Regions from separate parts of the Homo sapiens genome. Here all the other regions are linked to region 5. Evidence: fine-mapped expression QTL. A gene starts in region 5. Each other region holds a variant in brackets. All regions are shown on one strand. Distances are from middle to middle. Region 1 overlaps MAST4 (microtubule associated serine/threonine kinase family member 4). Region 2 overlaps MAST4 (microtubule associated serine/threonine kinase family member 4). Region 3 has its middle 15 kb from the start of CD180. Region 4 overlaps MAST4 (microtubule associated serine/threonine kinase family member 4). Region 5 holds the start of MAST4 (microtubule associated serine/threonine kinase family member 4). Region 6 overlaps MAST4 (microtubule associated serine/threonine kinase family member 4).

The links.
Region 1: its variant is fine-mapped to the expression of MAST4 in monocytes (Quach 2016, PIP 0.95).
Region 2: its variant is fine-mapped to the expression of MAST4 in monocytes after LPS (Quach 2016, PIP 0.95).
Region 3: its variant is fine-mapped to the expression of MAST4 in pancreas (GTEx, PIP 0.98).
Region 4: its variant is fine-mapped to the expression of MAST4 in monocytes after interferon gamma (Fairfax 2014, PIP 0.95).
Region 6: its variant is fine-mapped to the expression of MAST4 in whole blood (INTERVAL, PIP above 0.99).

The regions. Positions count from the first base shown.
Region 1 is chr5:67,162,154-67,166,241 of GRCh38, reverse strand. MAST4 (microtubule associated serine/threonine kinase family member 4) reads right to left here. Exons shown (of 29, transcript NM_001164664.2): 28 at 3,454-3,635; 29 at 1-3,095. Among named protein-coding and RNA genes, the nearest start is that of CD180, 33 kb to the left of the region's middle. The variant T/G (reference allele first, on the strand shown) is at 2,551.
Region 2 is chr5:67,167,312-67,171,399 of GRCh38, reverse strand. It overlaps MAST4 (microtubule associated serine/threonine kinase family member 4), which reads right to left. Exons shown (of 29, transcript NM_001164664.2): 29 at 1,807-4,088. Among named protein-coding and RNA genes, the nearest start is that of CD180, 27 kb to the left of the region's middle. The variant C/T (reference allele first, on the strand shown) is at 1,795.
Region 3 is chr5:67,209,390-67,213,477 of GRCh38, reverse strand. No RefSeq gene overlaps it. Among named protein-coding and RNA genes, the nearest start is that of CD180, 15 kb to the right of the region's middle. The variant T/AAATT (reference allele first, on the strand shown) is at 2,244.
Region 4 is chr5:66,620,184-66,624,271 of GRCh38, reverse strand. The region is part of intron 1 of MAST4 (microtubule associated serine/threonine kinase family member 4); the gene reads right to left. Among named protein-coding and RNA genes, the nearest start is that of MAST4, 26 kb to the right of the region's middle. The variant G/AG (reference allele first, on the strand shown) is at 1,852.
Region 5 is chr5:66,594,438-66,598,525 of GRCh38, reverse strand. MAST4 (microtubule associated serine/threonine kinase family member 4) reads right to left here and starts at 2,133. Exons shown (of 29, transcript NM_001164664.2): 1 at 1,508-2,133. The coding sequence starts at 1,870. RefSeq lists silencers at 1,388-1,537, 1,548-1,687, 2,298-2,497.
Region 6 is chr5:67,029,388-67,033,475 of GRCh38, reverse strand. All of the region lies in intron 4 of MAST4 (microtubule associated serine/threonine kinase family member 4), which reads right to left. Among named protein-coding and RNA genes, the nearest start is that of MAST4-AS1, 27 kb to the right of the region's middle. The variant T/C (reference allele first, on the strand shown) is at 2,297.

The DNA of each region.
Region 1 (4,088 bases), 570 kb before region 5:
TGTCTGTCTGTTGTCTGTCTGTTTGCACAGGGTGGGGCAATCTTTCACAGTGGATGGTTTGGGGTGCTTTGGAGACAGGGTTTGCTTTTCACCAACAGCGGACAGTTTCTGGTCCGCTGGCTCACTAGGCCCTGGGTGTCCCGGCCTTGGCAAATGCACAGGCTTCTCCAGCACCTCCAGGGGCCGCCCACCACTGGTGGGTTGTGGCTTGGCGTCTAGAGGAGCCCTGTCAGTGTGCAGTGGGACAGAGGGCCCACCTTCTCCCTGGCCAATCCCATCGCTGGCTTTGTTCTGGGAGCCTGGGGTAGCAGGAAACACATCCGGCCCACTCTTACTGTGGCCCTTCCCCTCTCTGCTAGAGCCACCGAGGGACTGAGTGGCAGGCTCTTTGCCCTTTGTGGCCCCGACACTTGGTTTCTGAGAGGAGAGGGACCGGTCGGGGTGCTTAGTCTTTGGAGGGCCCGGGTCAGGGCCAGGCCGGGGCTTGTGGCTGCTGCTTTCACTGTGCGCAGCAACAGGCTTGGGAGGGTCCTGGGGGCTCGAGCTGGGCTCTGCAGTGCTGGGCTTGGCCCCCGGCTCTCTGCCAGAAGCGTGGCTTGGGGAACTGCAATGCTGCCTGGCAGCCGGGCTGGACAGGTCTTTGGCCGTCAGAGGGGGCGGAGGGATGCTGCTGGGATGCCTTTGTAGAGGCTGCTCCTTCCTTTCAGGTTCCTTGGCACCATCTTTCTGCAAAGATGGGAAACTGGAGAGCTTTTCACTCTTCTCACTCTCAATTCCAGGTGGCTGCAGAGACCGCCTGGCAAGAAGCGCTTCGGGCTTGGGTTCCACGCCACGCCTCACCTTGCCCAGCTCCTTCTCACAGGGAATTCCAGCTGAGTGCAGAGAGGAGTTGTCTCTGGGCGGGGGCCTCGCCTCACCTGGGCCATCTTTGTGGTTCGTTTTCCCACCCGGCGCCCATGCTTTCTCCATGGCCTGGGTCTGTGTATAGAAATCTGGGTGGGTCCTTCCCACAGAGAGGAGATTTTTGGAGTTGTCACTGGTTTTCGCAGTTTCTGGAAAGCACAGTTCCATGGAGGGCTCTCTGCATGTGTCAGCCCTCGCAGCAGAGCGCTCGCTTCTGGCTGTGGGAGGGCCTCTTTCAGACGATTCCCTCAGGCCTGGCTTCTCCCTTGAGGGGGAAGCTTCAGGTGGGAGCGGGCAGCGTGGCCTGGCCAGGTCAGGGCTGTGGAGGTTCTGCCCCAGGCAGGTCAGAAGCTTGGGGTCAGTGGTGTGGTCTTGGTGTTTAGGGGAGCTGCCCTCTCTCTGTTGGGGATTGCTTTCCATGACTGTTCCAGGGCTCCTGGCAGTAGGATGGGGACCTTTCCTGTCCCTCTTGAACTCTGGGTCAGGCAGGGAAACTGCTGGTGAATTCTGGAGACCTCGGCTGGGGGGCAGGAACCAAGGCTCCAGCAGGTAGGATTTATTCATCTTTAAGCTGGAAGGAGAAAGCTCTCTTGCACTGGTGGTATCGTTCTTTTTCCCACTGCTGCTGGGGAGAACTGGTGGCACAGAGGCCCTCACGTCACCACTTGGGCTGGGGCTCTGTGCAGACTCTGGGGAAGGCAGTTCTGTCTTGGAGGCCTGAGGTCCGGACAGGAGAGCAATGTCCAGAGTGCCCTCGATCGGCTTCAGGCATGAGACAGACCTACCTTCCAGCTTATACTCGGAGGGGCTCTTCCTAACAGGGGACTCAGGAGCAACCAAGCCAGGCTTCTCCGTTCCACTGTCCACCCGGCCTGTTAAGGCCTTGAGGGGAACAAAAGAGACGGCACTCATCTGAGCTGCATGGGTGCTGCTGACAAAAGCTCGGCTCTCAGAAGCCGGCGGGGGCTCCTGCTGCCCACCCGTGGGTCGGACTGGGTTCCCTGGCAGGCATTCGTGGGAGCCAGCTGTCATCTTGGGCTTCAGCACAGGGCAGAGGTTGTCCTCTTTGTCCTCAAGTGACATTTTCTTTCGGAGGTAATCGATGTTGGCCAGCTTGCTGTCTAACTTTTCACATCGGAGAAGCTCCTTGGCCTGGGAGGACTTCTCCGTGCCTTCCCCCTTCCCAGAGATGCCCCTGTCGAGGGAGTGGCAGAGACCATCCTGGAGGGTGCCAGGAGCGGGGGCCCGTCTGAAGTCCCCGCCACCCTGGCGGTGCTCCGCAGGCACCCGGCCATCCGACATCGCACCCTCGCTGGCGCGCACGCTGGCCTGCTTGTGAAGAGCATCCTTCAGCAGGCTGCCCAGCGGTGGCGCCTCCTGCATAGACGCTTTGTTTTCAAAAGTACTTGACCTTTCCACAGCCTTCGGATAGACTTTCTTCTCTCTCTCTTCCAGCTTAAACAGAGCAAAGTTTTCCAAATCACTCCCGGGTCCATGGGATTTCTGGTGGGATTCCTGTTTCTCTGGGAAGCCGTCTGCTTTCTTCACCACCACCTTGGCCTTCAGCTTGTCGCGGTCCAGGTCGTCCACAGACTCCTGGCGGCCCACCTTCCGGGAGACTGGGCGTTTCAGGCAGCCTTGCTCCAC[T/G]GGCCGGGCGCGGCTGAGCGGCGGCACGTCGCACACGTTCTCATCCAGGCTCTGCAGCGGCGCCTCCCGCTGGGACTGCTCCCGCTGCACCTCCTCTTGGGTCACCTCCAGGCTGTGCTTGCGGGAGCACAGGTGCTTCTTGTCACTGCCGTAAGAGGGCGACAGCTTCTCCTCGGACTGCACGCGCTTGAGCAGCGGGGACCTGGGGGGCTCCGCACTCTTGGGCCTCACGATGTGTCTGACGATGGTGGGCGGGGAGTGCATCTTGCTGGGAAAGGCTTGCGCGATCTTGGAATTGCCCAGTGAGTGTCCCAGAAGAGGGGATGGTGACCGCTGCGGGGAGGTGGGTTGCGGGGTTGGAGAGGGCGTCCGGGCCAGCGGGGACAGTGGGATGTTGCCGGCGGACTTTCGCCTTCCGGACCGGTACCGCTGCCCGCCGAGTTTGGGTGCAAGACCGTGGAGAGTGCTGGGCCGGATGTGCCCGGACCCTGCTGGGGAATTGGGGGCACTAGAACTAGGGGAGCTGCTCTGGGAGGAATTAGTACCTGTGGATGGAAAACAGAAGGCTGTGAGCATCCATGGTCATTTTCCCCTTTTTTTCACAGTTGTAGCCCAGACTGTATTAGGTAAGGCCAGGTAAGATCAGCAAATTGTCTCAGCATTTAGCTAGTGGAATAAACACTTTTCAGATAAACCTCTCCAGGCCAAGGTTTAGCCCCATACTTCTTGACTTATTTGTTTGGTCAGAATAGCCACATCTTATGACCTCTCTATAAATCTGTCTTTATAATTTACACCTTCAACCTGCTTTCTTTCAGCTGGAACAAGCTTCATGTTTTTTGGGGACCTCACATGACTTTACCTCCCCTCCCCTCTGCTGTTTAGACCAGGAGACTCACTCACCAGATGGGAAGTCAGGGGTGGAGCGGTAGCTTGGTGTTGGAGACCGGGGAGACAAGCTATGAGTGGGGGAACCTGGGAGGCTCTCACCCGATGACAGGGATCTGTTCAAGCAGGAGAAACTTCGGCTGGTGTGGAGTAAAGGAGAAGGCTGCTTGGCTAGCTTTTTGAAAAGAGATCTCCTCCTACAGAAAAACAGGAAAAAATTGTTCAGTCTTCTTTCAGAACTATTGCTGCCTCCCCAAAATACCATTGTGCTCAGCTCAATAACTCCGTGTGAGGGACAGGGATACAACAGCAGATCCTATTAAAGAGCAGAACACCACTTTCCTATTAGAAACCTTCTTATGACATGTAAAGGAAGAGTATTTAATAGTAGACAATGGAGCCTCTCTCAATTCCAAACACTTAAGAAGAGTTGGAAAAATAGGAAAAATATAAAATGCATTAAAAATACATTCATTTACTTGTTAGGTATATGAGGAGGATGCTCTTTGCTTGAAAGCTTCTGAGTACCTACCCCTAAATATGCAGACACAACTTAACTAAGAGATAATACAAAGTAAACCTCTGGAAGCAAAACCATTGTATTGGAAATCAAATTCTTTAATGGTGATAGGCTGGGCAGAGGCCAATGA
Region 2 (4,088 bases), 570 kb before region 5:
TGGAGACACAAAGCCTAACCATATCAGCAAATACTTATTGATGTCTCCGATGTGCTTTGTCCTAGAAGTAAAAAACAAGACAGAGAACCAGGGAGCTTGAAGTCTAGCAAAGAAGATACACATGTAGAAAGGTAACTCCAAAATAACGCAGTGAGTGCCATGAGGCAGATACACAGTGAAGCAAAGACAGTCCACAGGTCGGTCCAGGCCTTTCCAAAAGGCTTCCTCCAGATGTCTGAGTCCAGCACACATGCTGAGCTGGAGTTATCTAGGGTAAGGATACATTTAAGGAACTGGCCTTTACCCGAAGAATATGGGTGCTACTTAAAGGTTTAAAGCAGGGTAGTAACATGGTGTGCTTACACTTGAGCAACATCACTCTAGGGACATTGTGAAGAACAGACTAGAAGGGGTAAGAGCGAAGGCAAGAAAACCAGTTAGGAGGCTGTTGAGGTCATCTGGAGAGAGACTATGATAGAGACCAAACTAAGGCTGCCAGTAGCACAATAGTGACGGGACATGGATTGCACAGAAGAGTATATTGTGAAATCAGTGAAGCTTTTTTTTTTTTTTTTTTTTTTTTAAGATGTAAGGCAAGAAAGAAGAGTTTAGGCAGAAATCTAGGATCTGACTCGGAGAAAAGATGGGGAATACAGTGAGCTTTGAAAGAAGGGGCACCAAAATAAGCATATTTTTGGACATTTTGAGTGTGAGGTGCCTGAGCCAAGTTGAAATGCTCAGGGACCAAGGACGAACCCAGGAAACACCAGTATTTAAAGGGACAAGAGGACAAGGAAGAAATTCTCTAAAGAGAGAAAAAGAACAGGTTGAAGACAACTAGGAGAGAGGGCTGTCAGGGACAGACCGGTTCTCAAGATGGTCTACTGAAGTGATGTCTTGACAAGAGGGCTTTAGAGTCAGCTGTGTCACTGGTGACCTCTACCAGAGCGATGTTGATGGCATGGGTGACAGAGCCAGGTTTCAAAGGGGTGAAGACCCAAAAATACTAAGTGCAGACTCCTCTTGTAGGATGTCACCTGAGAAGGGACAGAGGGAAAAGGCCAGGTAAAGAAAGGGTTTTCTGAAAGGAAAGAGACAGTTGGGGAGGAAAAAGAGAATGCTGAGGCAGACTATGGTAATTGATGGAGCAAGTTCGTGAGAGAATGAGAGGAGGTGGTGGTGGTGTCACAGAGAAAGGAGAATCAAGACCCCCTGAGTGTGGGAAGATGGTGAGTGTGAGTGTAGAAGTTGGTAAGTTCTGCAGGCAAGGAAAAAGGTTGGTAGAAAAAAATAGGAAGAAGTTAAAAGAGGACTTAATCTTTTTTTTTTTTCTTTTTTTTGGAGATAGGGTCTCACTCTGTTGCCCAGGCTGGAATGCAATGGCACAATTATAGCTTGTTCACTGCAGCCTTGAACTTATGGGTTTAAGTAATTCTCCTACCTCAGCCTCCTGAGTAGTTGGGACAATAGGCGTACACCACCACACCCAGCTAACTTTTCAAGTTTTTGTAGAGATAGGGTCTATGTTGCCCAGGTTGGTCTCCAATTCCTAGCTGAAGCCATCTTCCTGCCTTAAGACTCCCAAATAGCTAGGACTACAGGTGAGCACCACTATGCCCAGCTAAAGGACTTAATGTTGAAGAATATTTGTGTACATTTTTAAGAAAAAAAGGCAAACTGTTCCACTCAGCAAAAAGTAATCTGTAAAAACCTATCCTTTCCATAATACCAGAGTAATAATCAGTAATATTTTTTGGAGGTGGAATGCATATGAGTATATTAGAAAAAAACTTA[C/T]GAGTCATTATCTTTTCATGCTAAATTTTTATTTCAATGTTATGCAACTGCATAAGTATAAATATTTTGTTCAATATACAACAATTATGACGTCCATAAGGAATTTCTTAGAGAAAATAAGACTGCAAACACTTTATTGCACAGATCCTAACAAACTTTTAAGCTGGTAAATCTACAGCTGGGAGTACTACCAAGGAGCACATCCTACAATCACACAGAGACTGACCAAATAGAACACAATGAGGAGAATTTCTACCAGCTGATTGGAGAGGTTTACAACAACAAACATGTAATACATGAATGCAACCTTAAGTACTCTTTACTCATTTATAATGAAAAACATATTTGGCAAAAATGATGATACACTATACAAAATATACATAAAAATATCATTTGTAAACAAATAGCTAGTTGTGCTTTAAAGGAAATTGGACAGTTAAAAAGCAAAGGCTTGTAAACCATGAACTACCTCCCCGACAGACTTGTCCCGATGGCTGAATGTAGGATTGGGTTATGACAACTGCCAAACACAGATATGTATTATAAACGTTGAGACCAGTTTTGAAATCCATTAGTAAACTCTTGTAAAGTATATATATATATTTTTACAGCTTCACAATATAGTGATGGGGAATGGCTAAAACCATATGGGAAAAAAAAATTAGGGGCAAGGAGGAGGCTTTTTTCTTTTTCTTTTTTTGTTTGTTTTTTTCCTTTTTCCCAAAGCCAATTCATTTTACAACGAAGGACAACTGAGCAGTCGGTTAAGTTATGCCTTTGTTTTCAGAGTGGAGTTTATAGCCTCACTAGAAGATTTACAATCCATAAGGCCATAAGATGATGCTGTGCTTAGATGAACAATTTTATAGCGTGAAGATACTAAGACATCCCCCAAGAGAGTTTGGGTGCTAGATCAGTTATTTATTGGTAATTTTTTTTCTCTTACAAAACCAAACAAAAAATTCTGCTATGGTTCCCAAGCAACTTATAAATACTTATCTGTATTTTCTCTTAGTGCCTTAGTATTTATATCAGCAAGTGCCATCTTACAATACAAAACAAGCCACCAAAGAAACTGCAACAACAGAAACAAAAACAAGAAATCAAAAACCTTCAGCACTAAAATGATTTGACAAATTCTACATATTCCACGGTATACAAAATTTAAATAAGGCTTAGCAAAAGTAAAAAGGATGGTCACATTCAAGCACCAAATAGCTCCAGCGAGTCTCTTTGTTACAAAAATGCTGCTCTGTATTAAGACAGTATTTTTTGCATACAAATAAAGAGATCAGGTTATGAAATGTGTGGAGCTACTAGATGCAGCAGAAATGAATGTGAAACCCAGGAACTTGCTAAAAACAGCAAGCTTCATCTACAACATAAGGCCCCAGCTATGTATTAAAATGTATCTGATGTCCTGATTATTCTTTAATCGATATGCTACGATGCCAAAATCCACCCCCAGTTCTTTTCCTCAAAAAAGCAAATTTAAAACCTCTTCCAATGCCTGATGCTTATTACTCAAGTACTAGAAGATTTGGGTGCAGCCAGTAATTTTCCTTTTTATTCAAGAGCAGGGCTGGTGCAGGACTACTACAAAATGTGTGCTTCTTGGACTAGTCACTCACAGCATAAAGGCCTGAGTTTAAGAGTTTGAAAAGAAGGAAAAGAAAGCAAACAGAAAGAAAGTTGATGTGTGTTTATAGTCCCCGCTCTACCTCAGGTGAAGGCCAGACATCCACATCCACAGAAAGGAACAACTGGCCTTTTAGACAGTTGGACCAGGGATCCAGTGTCCATTGGGATGGCCGTGTAATGAAAATGGCTAGCTCCACTTGTCCTGGCCATTCCTAATGGAGGAGGATTCCAAATGCAGTACTTAGAGTAGTTCTTGCTTTAGATCTGGAAATATAGGTAGCCAGATACAGTACTATCAGAAACTCTGGTTAAAATACACATAAAAACTCAGAATCTACTGTGTTTAGGGCTTTCTTCCATCTTAACTTAGAATGTTTTAGCTTATAAAAATGGAACCTTGAAATAGTCTCTTAAACCACAGACCAAAACATGTAGGTGGATGTGTATATACACGAATATGGGTGTATCTCTGTTCACACACACCCAGTTTTGACCATTTTGCTTCATTACTACATTATGATAAATGGTAAAGCAAAAATCTTATTTAAAAAAAGCTGTAGTAAACGACGCAATCAGCAGCCAGGTATAGACTCTACATCCCAAACCAAACACGATGCTATATATTTACAAAGAAAATCATTTTCCTCAACAAC
Region 3 (4,088 bases), 610 kb before region 5:
TTGAGCATCTACTCTGTACTAAGCACTATGCTGAGACCTAAAATATAATGATGAACAAAACATGTATGGTCCTGCCTTCACAATGCCAATAATCTAGTGACTAGAGACAGACACTTAACATCATCACAAATAAAGAGAAAATTACAATGGACATAAATGAACGATTAAAATAAGAATGGGGGCCAGGTGCAGTGGCTCAAGCCTGTAATCCCAGCACTTTGGGAGGCCGAGGCAGGTGGATCACGAGGTCAGGAGTTCAAGACCAGCCTGGCCAAGATGGTGAAACTCTGTCTCTACTAAAAATACAATAATTAGCCGGGTGTGGTGGCGGGCACCTGTAATCCCAGCTACTCGGGAGGGTGAGGCAGAGAATCGCTTGAACCCAGAAGGTGGAGGTTGCAGTGAGCCAAGATCGGGCCACCGCAGTCCAGCCTGGGTGACAGAGCAAGACTCTGTCTCAAAAAAAAAAAAAAAGAAAAGAAAAGAAAAAAAAGAATGGGAAAGATATTATGTTTTGGGTTAGGTTGGTGGCAGAGGAGAGGGAAATTACTGAGGAGAATTAAGATTTATTTATAAGAACCTAGTGATCTTGAAAAAAAAAAGACTTTTTAAAAGAAAATACAGGAGTTATGGCTGGATTAAATGGTGTTGAGGAGAATTTTATGACAAATGTGAGTTCCAAATTTCTGGCTTAAGACATTGGGCGGATAAAATTGCTGTTGTATGAATTGATGTAATAGGCTGAATAATGGTCCTCCGAGGAAATTCATGTCTTAATCCCTGGGACCTGTAAATATTCTCTTATTTGGAAAAAAAAATAGTCTTTGTAGATGTAATTGAGGATCTTGAGATGGGGAGATGATCTTGGATTATCTAGGTGGAACCTAAATGCAGTCGCTTGTATCCTTATAAAAAAGAGGCAGAAGGAGATTAAAACACACACACACACACAGAGGAGAAGGCTATGTAAAGACAGGGCAGAAAGAGAATTGAAGATGCTGGCCTCCAAGATTGGAGTGATGCTACCACAAGCCAAGTGTGACAATTAATTTTATGTGTCAACTTGACTGGGCCATGGAGTGCCCAGACATTTGACCAAACATTATTTTTAATGTGACTGTGAAGGTGTTTCTGGTTGAGATTAACATTTAAATGAACAGACTGAGTAAAGTATATTATCCTCGCCAAAGTGGGCTGGCCTCATTCAATCAATTGAAGATTGGAGTTGAAGAAAAAGGCCAAGTAAGAGGGAATTTCTCTTACGTGACTGCATGAGCTGGAGCATTGGTCTTCTCTAGAGAGACAGTTTGATCCTATTGGTTCTGTTTCTTGGGAGAATCCTGACTAATACAGCAAAGAATGCCAGCAGCTAACAGGAGCAGTAAGAGACAAGGAACACATTCACCCCTAAGGCTCCAGAGGGAGTACAGCCCTGCCAACACCTTGATTTCAACCCAGAGGAATTGATTTTAGATTTCTGGCCTCCAGGACTATGAGAAAATAAATGTGTGCTGGGTTAAGTCAGCTCATTTTTAGTAATTTATTACAGAAGCCATAGGAAATTAATACAATAGGAACTATTATACAAGACGAGTCTAAGTGTGGGGGGGTGGTGTATCAAGATTCCATCTGGGGACAGGCATGGTGGCTCACGCCTGTAATCCCAGCACTTTGGGAGGCCGAGGCAGGTGGATTACCTGAGGTGAGGAGTTCAAGACCTGCCTGGCCAACATGGCAAAACCTCATCTCTACCTAAAAATACAAAAATTAGCTGGGTGTGGTGGTGTGCACCTGTAATCCCTGCTACTCATGAGGCTAAGGCAGGAGAATCGCTTGAACCCAGGAGGTGGAGGTTGCAGTAAGCCAAGATCGTGCCACCACACTCCAGCCTGGGTGACAGAGTGAGACTCTGTCTCAAAAAAATAATAATAAATTAAAATAAATTTTTTAGGCCGGACGTGGTGGCTCACGCCTGTAAACCCAGCACTTTGGGAAGCCAAGGCGGGTGGATCACAAGGTCAGGGATAGAGACCATCCTGGCCAACATGGTGAAACCCCGTCTCTACTAAAAGTACAAAAAAAATTAGCCAGGCGTGGTAGCGGGTGCCTGTAGTCCCAGCTACTCGGGAGGCTGAGGCAGAAGAATGGCGTGAACCCGGGAGGCGGAGCTTGCAGTGAGCCGAGATCGCGCCACTGCACTCCAGCCTGGGCGACAAAGCGAGACTCCGTCTCAAAAAATAAAT[T/AAATT]AATTAATTAATTAACTTTTTAAAGTTCCATTTGGAACATGAAATCTGAGATGTCTAGCACACGCCTCTGGAAAGGAAGGCCGAATAGGGATTTGGATATGCAGGTATGAGACTGACAGAATGGTCTGAGCACAGGCTTGAAGTTCCAAAGTCCCAGGGACTGAAAAGCTGTGGGAAGTGAAGTAAGAAAGAAAGACAGCCAAGCACGTGTCCTGAGGAACTCTCAACATTGGGAGATCAGGTGGAAAGGTAGCCTGAGAAAGAAACTAGGAGAACATGGGGTCTTGGAGGCCAAGGGAGGTGAGTCGTTTTGAATGACAGGGTGATCATCCCTGGAACAGAATCCAATCTGGAGTACATTTTATGAAAACGATGAGGAGGAAGCAGAAACAGCCTGTGTGGGTGACTTATTCTTGAAGTTTGGCTTGGAAAGTGCATAAAGAAAGCAGATAGTTGCTATGAATATTGGATCCAGGAAAGCTTTTTTTAATTCTTATTTTCATATGGCAGAGTTTAGGGCAATTCCATATGATTTGGAAAATGACCCAAAAACAGAAATGGTTGGAAATGCAGGTGAGAGTGGGGCTACCTGCTGAAGCCTGAGAAGGCAGAAACAGAGGATTCAGAGAGCAGGTCTCAATCCTGGCTGTAGTTTAGGATCCCCTGGGGACATTTTTTAAAAATCCCCACACCCAGCCTAAACCCAAGACAAATAACATCAGACTTTTTTTTTTTTCTTGGAGACAGAGTCTTGCTCTGTCGCCCAGGCTGGAGTTCAGTGGTATGATCTCGGCTCACTGCAAGCTCCGCCTCCCAGGTTCACGCCATTCTCCTGCCTCAGCCTCCCGAGTAGCTGGGACTACAGGTGCCCGCCACCACACCCAGCTAATTCTTTTTTTTGTATTTGTGGTAGAGACGGAGTTTCACCGTGTTAGCCAGGATGGTCTCGATCTCCTGACCTCGTGATCCGCCTGCCTCGGCCTCCCAAAGTGCTGGGATTACAGACGTGAGACATCAGACTTTTTGCTTTGGAACCCAGGCATCAATCATTGTCAAATCTCCCCAGGTGATCCCAATGAGTGGTTCCGGGGATTCAGAGCACACTTGGAAGGTGTGGCAGGGCATCCAGGTGCATGTGCTGGCACATGGAGAGGTAGGTTTGAAGGTTTGGTGGGTGTAAATTAAGGAATTCCTAACTTCAGCTTTCTATTTCCAAAATTCAAGGCAAGGTCATATACTAAGCATGTGCTGAACATGTATGGAAGAAGGGGGAGGCTAAGGGGTGAAGAAACGTAAAGATGACACAGTTCATCCTGAGAGTGGAAAAGGGAAGATGCCCCATCTGGAGAACTATGGCAAGAATGCCGGGCAGACTGGGAGTTTATAGCCATGCCATCCGGCCATTCATTCCCCTGACAGTTGTCAGACAGATACCAAACTAGGGGATGGGGCTCAAACATAAGAAAGACATTGTCCCTGACCTCACAGATTTCGCAGTTCAATGGAGGAGGGACACATATTAACAAACAGAAGATTCAGGTGCTACAATTGAGTCACACAAGAGAAATTGGGAACTCTAACCCTTGGGGAGACAGAAGCCATCTCCTCGGCACATAGGATGCTCCTGAGACGTGCTCCTTAATCTCCAAGCACCTTACTGTTGTGGGAAAACAAAGGGAGATACAGCTCAGTCCATATCCTCCAGGGATCGCTAACGCAGCCCCAAAACAGTTATGACACATCAGCAGCACCGTGCCACATGGGGCCTCCAAGCAGGAGAAAGTCTGGAAGGGCGGCAAGACTGAGGTCAACACGAATTTTCAGGTGGTAATCTTCAAGTGACAT
Region 4 (4,088 bases), 26 kb before region 5:
CTGAGGCAAGAGAATGGCATGAAACCGGGAGGCAGAGCTTGCAGTGAGCCGAGATCATGCCACTTGCACTCCAGCCTGGGTGACAAAGCAAGACTCCATCTCAAAAAAAAAAAAAAAAAAAAAAACATTTTAACAATATTAATTCTTCCAATCTGTGAACATGAGATCTTTCCATTTGTTTTAAATTTCCTTCATCAATATTTTATAATTAAATGTACAAGTCTCTCACCTCCTTAATTCCTAAGTATTTTATCTTTTCTTGCTAATGTAAATGAGATTCTCTTAATTTTCCTTTTAGAGAGTTTATTGTTGATGTACAGATATGCCACTGTTTTTGTATGTTGATTTTTGTATCTTACTTTACTGAATTCACTGATCAGTTCTAACAGTTTTTGTGAAGTCTTTAGGATTTTCCATGTATATATGATCATGACACCTGCAAACAGATAATTTTGCCTCTTCCCTTCCAATTTGAATGCCTTTTCTTTTTCCTGTCTGTTTTCTCTGCCTAGGACTTCCAGTACAATGTCGAAGAGAAGTGATGACATATGGCATCCTTGCCTTGCTCCAAATCTTAGAGGAAAAACTAAGTTTTAGCCCATTGATTATAGCGTTAGTTGTGGGTCCTTCATATATGGCTTTTACTAAGTTCCTCTTATGCCTATTTGGTTCAGAGTTTTTAATCATAAAATAATGTTAATTTTTGTCAAATATTTTTTCTGCATCTGATGAAATGATGTTTTTATCTTCTATGCTGTGAATGTGGCATATCATATTGTATGTACATTGAACCATCCTTGCATCCCAGGGATAAATCCCACTTGGTCATGATGTATGATCCTTAAAATGTGCTACTGAATGATATTTGCTAGTACTTTATTGAGGATTTTTGCATCTATGTTTATCAGGGATTATAGCCTGTAGTTTTCTTTTCTTGTGGTGTCTTTGTCTGGCTTTGGAATCAGGGTGACACTGGCCTCATAAAATGAGTCTGGGAATGTTTCCTCTTCTACTTTTTGAAAAGCATTTAAGAGGGCTTGGTATTAGTTTTTTGAACCATGGTTCTTATAAGGCCATAATCCTTGTAGCTACAGATGTCAGCCCACACATCTCTCTGTGTTTGAGGGCTTCCCTGGTGACCCACTGGATATCAGGGTTTCTTTTGATAACTTTATGGATCAAAAGGGATTCACCCAAAGGATCTGGGTCATCTTCACCTGTCCCATAGGAATTCAGGACTCTCAGGGACCCATAGTAGCACAAAGTCCATAACTTAGCAACAGACTGAAGGCTATGAGCAAACCCCACCACGGACAGCACAAGCTGCAGCCTTAGGAACAGGGCACCTATGGCCATTAGGGCACACACAAACCCAGAAGATGGCATAACCTTGGTTAGCTTGACATCTCTGTCTGGTGCTTTATTGGGTCTGGGATTCTGTGCCGCAAGGTTGTTATTAGGCTGGTTGTCTGACATCTTCCCCACTCCATAAATGGCACTCTACCCTTTGAGTTCACCTGGCCAAAAACTTGGAAGTCCTCTTTGATTTTTCCAGTTATCATCTTCCATTTTCACTCTGTGAGCAAACCCTGTCAAGTTTATGTTCAATACACATCCTGAGCCTGTTTGCTTCTTACCACCTCTATTGTCAACCTGCTCCAAGCACCATCACCTCTAACCTGATTACTGCAGTAACCCTTAACTGATTCTCTGTTTTCACTCCAAGCCTCTTTAATCTATTATCCATACAGAAGCCAGTGAGCCTGTTAAAAATTAGATCTTGTCACCCTTCTACTTAAAACCTTCCAGTGACTATGCAACTGATTTCCAAGTTAGAAAAAAAAAAAAAAA[G/AG]CCTTACAAGGACATACAAGGTCACATGACATGGCCTTACACTTCATTCCTAGCCTTTGATCTCATCTCCTACAACTCTCTCCCACACTTGTTCTGCTCCACTCTGGCCTTCTTACCATTCTTCGAATTCTCCAGATATGTTCCATCTCAGGGCCTTTGCACTTGCTGTTTCCCCTTCTCTCCAGATAGACACATGGCCAAACACATCATCTTGTTCAAATCTTTACACAAGTCACTTTCACGGAAACATCTTCCTCGACCATGCTGTCAAAATCTATAAATATCCCTCACCCCACACCCCAGCACTCCATATTCCATTTTTTTTTTCTCCTTAGGGTACACTACCATGTAACACAGAGGTCTGCAAACTAAGGAGGACTGTGGGTCAAATCTGGCCCGCTGCATGATTCTGTAAATAGCAGTGTTGTTGGAACACAGCTATATCCTTTCATGGACGTATTGGCTATGGCTGCTCTCACACTACAGTGGCAGAGTTGAGTAGTTGCGACAAAAACCATCTGGCCCACAAAGCCTGAAGTATTTACTATTTGGCCCTCTATAGAAGACGACTGTCAACTCCTGCTCTAACCCATTGCCTGACATATTATCTGCCTCCCCTCCATGCAATATAAACCCCATGAGACCAGGGACTTTTGCTTGCTTTGTTCATTACTGTATTCCCAGTGCCAGTAACAGTACCCGATGCACAGTAGGTGCTCAATTAGTATTTGTTGGGTAGACGGAGGAATGAATAAATTGGTATGGTTGACTTGAAAGGTCTAGAATACACTAGTGACTTTTTTTAACCATTTTTATTGTGAAATATGCAAAAAATACCTAAAACATAAGAGCAAAGTGTAATAAATAAATATAGAATACTCTTGTAACCACCACTCAAGTAAATAAGAAGATATGGCTAATGCCTTTCAAGTCAAAATAGTGTGCTTCTCTAAAAACCAAATTAACTAAGATGCAAAGTAGAATAAAAGCCCTGTTTTCTCTGCATGCTCTGGTTCTTAGACATGCTATCCAAACATTTTCTCACTGCTACTCATACAATAGCACACTGCGAGACAAAAGAATGAGAAAAATTCCAGAACCTCACTACAAAGCCACCCTGTTAAGGCACATGCCATTTAAGTTGCCTTACAGTAGTGCCTTGGACATTTTGAATATAATCATCTTCTGTTATTTGAGGTCCCCAGAATCAAATTCTACTCTCAAATGAACATGACACTACTGAGGCTCCCACCTATTTATGTAAATCTCCGACTTCATTTTTCTTAAGTATTTCTGATCCCTCAGAACAAAAAATTAACACAGTCATCCTCAACTCCTCTTCATTTATATCTCTCTTCACTTTAACAAGACACTGCTGCTGGTGCTCAGAGAATTCAGGGAAAAAAAAAACAATCTATTTAGAAACAATTCTGACTTAACTGCTGTGTCATTTCCTATACTTGTCTCCCTTTCTCTGAATTAGGGGGGACAGTTGCATTAAAACCGTATCTCTTTTACTTAGAATGCACCTGCTTGGGCTGATTAAGCCACAACTGAAGTCACAATCCTCCACTTTTGAGCTCCCTACCATTCTAACAAAATGAGTTATCACTTCTGGTGAGACATTTAAAAAAAAAAAATCAGGACCTGTAAAAACAGAATTGTCCCCATATGAGGTGGAGAAAAGAGAGATAGACACAGAGGCAGGACGAAAAAAAGATGTAAAAACAAGGACTAGCAAATATTTTCTCATAAAATCTACAAAAATGTTAAGTCTCAACTTACAGATAATTACCATTCCCATAAATGAGACTACTGCTCACAGAGCTAAATTTTTCTCTATTACAGCATTTCTACAGAAATGTCACATATTGTTTTGTTTTACTAAAGGCCATGCTTTGTTGTTTTTTTTAAAGGCTATCAGTTAGGGTTCAATGCCATTATTAACGGCAAGTATTAGAGATAATGTGCCCATACTAATTTCACACAATGATACTTTTTATTATTACAAATAAAGAAGTACTACATAACTTTGTTGAAAAATTTAAAACTGTATTGAGCTTTTACAATATTTTAATTTGTAGGCATAACTTCATATGGTTTTAATGTGGAGGGGAAGTAGTATTGTAGACTTCTATATATTTTCCCCACTCACAAATATTTACATGCAATACAATATAATTGCTTTGTTGTGAAAGTGCTAGAGAAAACACAAGCATCCACCTTCTACTATACCA
Region 5 (4,088 bases):
CTAGGATGTAGCTCTGCGGTGGGTGAGGAACTCAGCAAACTCCTGACATCCCGCCGCTAGGATCGATTTGGAGCTATGGATTCATCTGAAATTCCTGATTCGAAACAGGAGTATGAGAGTGAAAATGAAATTTACCTTGAAGCTCCTCCTTTTACAGATTATGGAACTGAACCTCAGAGGAGTGAAATGATATACCCAAGGTCTCACCACTCAGTAGCAGAGGCAGTTCTAGAAAGCAGGCCTCCAGACCCTTATCCAGGATCCTTGCAATGGGGGCTTAGGGGAATTAGGGAATGGGTCATGGTTACTGCAAGTGGCTTGGCCAAGAACCAGCTAAGCAGCTAAGGCTTGTTCCATCTCTGCCAAGCTAGGACTCGCCTCCTCTCAACCTTGTGCCACATCCAGTTTTTGCTTCCAGGCTGGGGGCCTCTGATTGCTTACTCTAAGGGACAAAGGCAATTATTTACTAAAGCTAACCCCATCCAAGATGAGGAAAATACAACACTGGCACTCAGGAATTAATTTCACAATAAGTCTATGTTAAGGTGATGTTTTATTTGTGGCCCTGCCTGATCAAGATGACTTCCCCACAAGAAACGTCCAAAGCAAACAATCTTTTTTTTTTTTAAACTGAGTCTGGCTCTGAGACGTGAAGAATTGTACACTTCTTTAACTGTCCTCCAAAAGCAGAAAATAAGCCGGACAGAGCAGCCAGAAGGACACCAGAGTCCTATGCTCAGTGTGTCAGGAAGCGACCCACAAGTTCTGGAGGAACATCCTTCCAGGAAACTGGGCAGATACAGATCCCCCACCCCGCTCCGCCCCGCAAAAGGTAAGACGATCTGTACTCGGTTTGGTGACAAGCGTTCATCTGGACAAGCTGGAAACAAGTCTGAACGGGAGCTGCAGGCGCGCACGCCAGCGCCACCGAGGGAGCGCGGGGAGTCCTCTTCTCCCAGAGGACCGACGCTGCGGGGACGCGCCAAAACCACCCGCGGGCGATCCCAGGGGGCTGGCGCCACTGAAACCTCCGCAGGCAACTCCGCGGCTACCGCTGCCCCCCACCCTACTCCTGCCTCTTACCCCCAAGGCACCATTTCTCCCCCTCAACTCCCTGCCCCTCGGCCCAAGCGCTTCGGTGGGAAACAACGCCCACTTTGGAGAATCAGAGGTGAGTTGTGGGGACACGCCAGATGTCCAGATCGCATCCTTTCACAGATCAACCAAGTCAGATACAAACACGAAGGAGTTTGCTTCTCTGACATTTTAAAAACACACCATCAGGCAGCACACTGAGACACACACACGGGGGTAACAGCCACAGGGAAGTCAATAACCCACAGGGGGGCTCCTAACTATCGTTGTCCCGTGCTCGGGGCAGAGCGCTTGGGGTCCCTCCCTATCTCCAGGCCACAGCGCTCTCCTGCCCACTGCCTGTGCGCAGGATGGGAAACTACGGTCGCCCGGCTGCCGGAACCCAGAGTGGGCAAGCTGGGGAAAGGCCCACCTCCTCGTCCTGCTCCTCCTGGGACGCGCTGCTGCCCCGGGGCGCGGGCGGCACAGCTCCTCCGGGAAGCGGCGGCGGCAGCGCAAGGACTCCGCGCTCCAGCAGCACGCTTGCCGGAGCCCACGCGGCGGGCGCCCGGGCGCCCAGGGTGCCTCCCAACGGCGGCGGCGGCGGCGGCTGATGCTCTCTGGAGAAGCCGCCGGGCTCCCCTTCCTCCGACAGAGTTTCTGAGCCCGAGGAGGACTCGGCCGAGGAAGCACCCGGAGAGGACGCGGCGACCAGCGCAGAGGCTGGAGTCCGGCTGCCGTGGCCACTGCAGCCGCGGGGCACCGGCTCTGGCGCCTCCGAAACTTTCTCCCCCATTTCCCTGTCTGGCCCAAAGTGCCTCCCGAGCGGCGGGGGCGCGGCGCGCACTCAGCGCCTCCCGGGGAAGACGCGGGCTCCTGGGCTCAGGCTCACTGGCACTGCCGCTCCCGGGCTGCAGGGAGCCCCGCCAGCGACTACATGGCAGTGACGGGGCCGCAGGAGCCCGCTGCTAAGTTCACAGCCGCCCGGGCCCGGCCGCAAACGGAGGCTCCCGCGCGCGGGGACATGCCCGCTCGGGTCCGCGATCTGCGCTCCACTGTGCTCCCGCGCTGCACCCGAGCCGCGGGTACTGCGGCTTCTCCTTGCAAAACCTGCCTCCGGGACGGAGCAAGGAGACGGGCAGCCCGCAGAGCCAATGGCAGGGCAGGCGCGCTGGTGGGCGGAGGCTGCGACGCCTCCGGCCATGAGGGCCTCAGGTAGGGGAGGCGGGGCCCGGGCGCGGGCCGTGGTCCCGCTGGAGCGCCTGGGCGCAGGGGACAGGGACCAGGCGGGGGTCCCCGGAGGGTGGGGGCGGAGCCCAGAATCGGAGCCAAGGGCTGAGACTCCGAACTTAGCGGGGGAGTGGCTGACCGTCCTTGGGACGTCAGAGGGAGACGGCGAGCGGATGGTGAGACCTTGGAGAAGAACTGGACTTTGTCTCCAAAAAGTGGAATCAAGAAAACGGACAAGAAGGAGGGCTCTATAGGGAAAAAAGGAACCACACACACACAGTCACCCACGCACACGGACTCACCAGCGTGTTGGAGGAAAAGGACAGAAACTTCGTGGTATAGTGAGCGGACCCAAAGGGGAGTGACCTCTAATCTCTGCTTTTCCGTTTAAGCTCTTTGGGCCTCAGTTTCCTCAACTGTAAATGGCTACATTACTACTGGTCTTGGCAGGCTTAGAGCAAATATATATAATGCATCAGCAAAGTGCCTGGCTTGGATACACGGAGCGTTTTTAAAAGACTATTTCCTGTCTTTATTTCTGTTTGTAAACTAAAAAGTTAAGTCTGAGACTTGAACCTTTTGATAGGGAGGAAGATAAAAAAGTATGTCCTTGTATTTAATTAGGACCAAGCTCTGTAGTCCTACTCAAATTGTCTGTCTCGGTATGATCAGCTAAGCAGAGGATGAAAAGGATTCACTTTCCAATGTACATTCTCCTAGCCCTGGGTTGTAAACCAACAGGATACAGGACAGGTTGCTTCATTTTCCTTACCTCTAAGAACTAGGAGAAAGAACTTTCACTAAAGGTACCAATAGAGTACCCTTAAGTCCTTCCCTGGGGCTGGAGGATGCTGCCTGTCCGGTGACTGGAATTTCCTTGGAAGCCAGCACTCAGCTCAGCAGTGGGAAATAAATGATTCCTCTCTTGCCTTCAGCTCTAGTCCCATTCTGAGCTCTGGCACAGTGACCTGGGATGTAAATTCAACCGCCTCAGTTCCATGTACGTTGATGGAGATGTGTGCCAGGTGCAGGGGATACAAAGATTAATAAGTCAGGTCCCCTGCCCTTGAGCAGCTTATGGTCAAGCGAGAGATTGATACTGCATAATATAGCTCCCTTATCCATTTTAGAAGCTGTGATAAGTGATACAGGAAAAATGTGTGAGGGAGAAGAGGAAAGAGTTACAGAAAAACAGTAGCAGGTCCTTGAGCATCTTAGATTTCTCTTTGTCAGAGCAGCCTTGCCAAAGGTCCTTAAAAACTGGAGGACCCTAATTGAAAGCCCCTTCAGCTAATGAGCCTTTCATGCTATCATGGTATTTACAAGTGATACATCACACAGAGGGCTTCATCATATTGGACAGCAACCTTTGTCCTGATCAGTTTCCTCCCCTCAAGATGAAGGGGAAGGAAATACGTTTTGTCTATCTTGCTTCAGACAGCCATACTGCAAAATGGACTCCGGTTGTCAGGCTTTCATTGTGACGCTTCTGAATTATTCACAGGGATATGAAGACCTGCTGAGGCAAAAGGTCAAGTCTAGTGGCAGCTAAGTTGTGAGAGCAAGGCTAAAGAGAGAGCACAGTGGGGCAGTCCGAATTTAACCCGGGCCTCACAATTACTTTCCTATTTAGGAGTTCTGGTCTTTATCTGAGCCCCTACGTGGTTGATTCACCAGAGCTGAACTGAAATGACAATTTCAGCCATGCACATAAAAGAAGAGGAGGAGTTGCTTTTCAGTACATAGGGAAATAAGAAGCAAGGTCATGGTCTGAATAACCGACA
Region 6 (4,088 bases), 430 kb before region 5:
ATATAAATCCTGCCTATGCCTATGTTGCAATATACTATGCCAAACTAGCTCAGCTTGACTGCTTTTTTTTTTGCCTGTATAGTTTCTTCAAAAAGGAGAAGTATCTGTAACAATCTGAAAAAAAAAAAGCCACACACACACACACACACACACACACACAGAGAAATGAAAACCCAAAAAAGTAATCCTTACAACTCTCAGCTGAGAGAAAAATTTCACTGTTATTTTAATGTTAATAGCTGCCACTTTTTAAAAAGTGTTATCAAGTCAGCAAGAGTGTTTTTCTTTCTTTTTTTTTTTTAAGGGTTAGATGTTCACAGTAAGAACTAATTAACTGCCAAGAATGAGATGGGTTTCCAAAGGAATGCCATTCTCCTCATCAAATACTAGTTTCTATTTATTTTAAGTATGACCATTCATTCTTAATCTGAAAGTCTTCGTAAGCATGGTTAGAACAGGGCAAAAAGTATTTATATATGATTCTACAACATAAAGTAATTATCTTAGTGTTGGATTGAAATTCACCTGTATACATATAAATATGGTACATCACTTTTCATAGTTTGTTGTCTGTACAATATTGAACATGAAATAAATGGCAATAGGTCTGAGCTACTAGATGTTATTTGTAGTTACTATAAGTGTGTTTGTGTATTTCTGCTTAAAATATAGATACACATCATTTTCTTTTTCAAGGGTTTTGAATTCTGTTGTTCTCAATAATCCTCTCATCATTTACCTAAAAGTCTATGGTAAATAATCATTGTACATACTGACACATGTGACCATATGAAATAGGTAAACCACTGATCCAGACAGACCAGACTATGCTGCTGAAAAATCATCAAGTCAGGTAAGAAGTAACCCTTATTTTGTTCTTGATGTAAAATAATTCTGCCCTCCCCCAAAATAAAAATGGCGTTTAAAACCGGTCTTATTTATTCTAACATGATACCTTATAGCTCTCCTACTAGGCACTGCAGACAAGCATGTATCTTGTTCTTTCTGTGACCCTAATGCAATACCTGGCACAGAGGCATGCTTAATTAAACCTTGCTGAATAAATGAATATTTTGAAAGAATAAGCCAATAAAAATGAGAAAAGATAAATTTTGCAAAAAACGTGGGTGGGGAAGTTTAGTCATAATAAAACCCAACCTTTCTTAAATCTCCCCCTTCTCAAATTAGTGGAAGTTTCCATTTTACAGTTTCTCCTAAAGATCCTGGAATCTTCATTAGAAAGCAGAGATTGTGGGTCAGGCTGTGCTGAGAGGTAACAAAGTCAGATTTTTTCATTGGCCTCCAGAGGCTTAATCTAAAATGGATTACAGGTACAGCAGGATAATTCACAGAAAGATTTAGGCAACTGCAAACATTCTGAAAGAATCTATAGATTAAATGAGTTAAAGCAGCCATGGAGCAAGAGTTTTTGGAAGGGGGGCAGATTGCTTTTGACAAATAAGCACCCCTTCAACGCAAGTGACAGAAGTAGGTCACGATGAGTAACTGAATTTTCCACTGATTCATTTCCACATATATCAGAGGCAGTAAAGGACACCAGTGATCTAGTTCTCCACCTGTAAGAGCTGTACAAATTAGTTCTCTCACGAAAGAAGGTGGAATAAAAACTGACCCAGCAGGGAGAACTGCCATCCTGACCTATGAATAGGTCACTAGGCAGTAAGGTCAACAGGCCTGACAGGAATATTCACTTCAGAGAAGTCCCCCATCTTTAGAAACTCTAACAATTTAGATTGTAGGGATATGGGAACAAGATGATTCCTGCTCTTTCTCCAGCTAACAGATCAGCACAATCAGGTTTAATGGTGTTATGCCAATTAACATGTATTTTACAAATCTTCACTAAGTCTGTACGCAGTTTTTCAGTGTTTAACTTTGAATGCAAATAACCTCTACTTTAAGTGTGATAGGGAAAAATTTTGCAAATCATGTCTAAATACAAATTCATTTATTTTAGTGCAAATGGAGCATACCACTGTAAATGTCAAATAGTCACCATCCATTATGATAACAGGGCCCAGCCAATCTTTCCAACTTATTCAAAGTTCACTGCATGAATGATCCAAGCCCTCAGTCCCTAGACAGAACTTAAAATATGTCCTTATTAAAAAATTCAAGGGCAATAAATCAGGCTAAAAAGGCGACAAGAGACGACCCTCCTCTGCCATCAACTCTGGGAAATGCCCAGGGCTTTCTGCTGGACTAGCCAGGGAGCTGACAGATTCTCTGTATCTATGCAGAGGAAAGCAGCAAAGAGTAGCAATTTAAAGACTGA[T/C]AATCTCCACCCACCAGGAACTGATATTAATCTATTTAATAAACGCATACATTTTAGTCTAGTCAGAGATCATCCACAGATGAAAGTAAATGCTTTTTTCACATAGGAAAAAAATATCCTATGTGGAAGTGTTATCCCCAATAGACATCAATTTTACTTTTTACAGGACAGTTAATGAGTTAGGCAGCATTATCCACACTTTAAACAAAAGTAGTCAAATTCTAGCAACTTCTGAAATACCAGCCAAAGCTACAGGAAAAAAATTTCACCATAACAGTTAATTGGCATAGAATCAACACCCATGACCTTGGCCTCTTTAGCACAATGTTCTATTGCACTAAAATACTAAATAAAAACATAGCGTTTGAGATACCCAAGGCTTTATAAAAGTAGACGTTGTAAGAGAGTGACACAAACACCCAAGATAAAAAAAGTGCTGAGGTACAGAACACTTAGAAGAGGTTAGGTGTTCCAAATATACAATGTTTGTATGGTTTTAATGTTTTAAACTAAACTCCCTTGAAACTACACAACAGAATGGAAGGGCTTAAAACCACAACCTCATTACTAATACAAAACAGATCTTATTTTAAATATCACCCCTTAGGACTCTGACCAATTTGCCCCAGGCCTGCTCTGGAATGGTGATGTACAGAAATGAAAAGGTATTTATTTTCTGAGTTAAAATGTCACTCAGATGATCTATTTTTGCCACCAGTGCTATGGTTACCTCTTCAAAACCAAAATGATGATTATGTCATTTTACCACAGCTATCTAATAAACATCAGATGGTCATCTCAGAGCTCTCATTCAGTGCTAACCTGGTTCAAGCCAAAGTTTAAAAAGAAAACAACCCTAAACCATCAAATATTGCTTGTAACACTATAAAACAAAAGAGATACGGAATACAGGTATCACACCATGCTATTACTAAATTAACTATAGAGCCTTTATGTTGTATTGCCCTGAGAAATGATTTGTTAAATAAAAACCTATAAGGATGTGAATGACCCATATGTATACAAAATATTTAGATAATAAAAATACACATTTAATTTGAAATTTGGTTTTACAATTTCCTAGATGCTCCTAAATATATATAACACTTAACAAGGAATCATGTGAAATACTAGTAAATTTCAACCTTAAACATACATTTTTATTTAATTGAAAAAATTTCATTAAACAAAATTTAAGTATATAATTTAGAGAAATTCAAATGTATAAAAATAATATATAAGTCTTAGTTTCAGAATAATTAGGATTAACTTTGTGCAAACTCGTAAACAGGACAAACTTCAAGTCCACAGCAATTTCAATAATGTTGTTAATATCAAATTATAAAGTCAACAGCAATGAATTTATATTTTCCTTTCTCCTACCTTTTTCACATGAGGAAATGTACTTTCCTTCTAAAACTCCTACTATTCCATCCACCTCACTTTCATTCTTCATGGACACAGAAATCATGCTGCCAATAAAGGTTTTCTAAGTAGCAAACACTTTTTGTTCTTATCAAAAAATAAACAAACAAAACCCAACAATCAAAACACACCATCACCTTGCCATAGAATTTTGCAACCCCAATTTCCTGCTCAATTTCTTTCAAACCTCTCCAGCCTAATTTCCTTTTTCTTAGAGATGAAATACACAGAATGGTAAGGTCCCTCAATATACTTAACTAAAAGAAACATGCTAGCAGTTTGATGACATTTCAGTAGGTATCTGATCCTCCTACAAGCAAAGATGTTTACATCCCGAATATTACTCCAAAGTAAAACAAAACATATA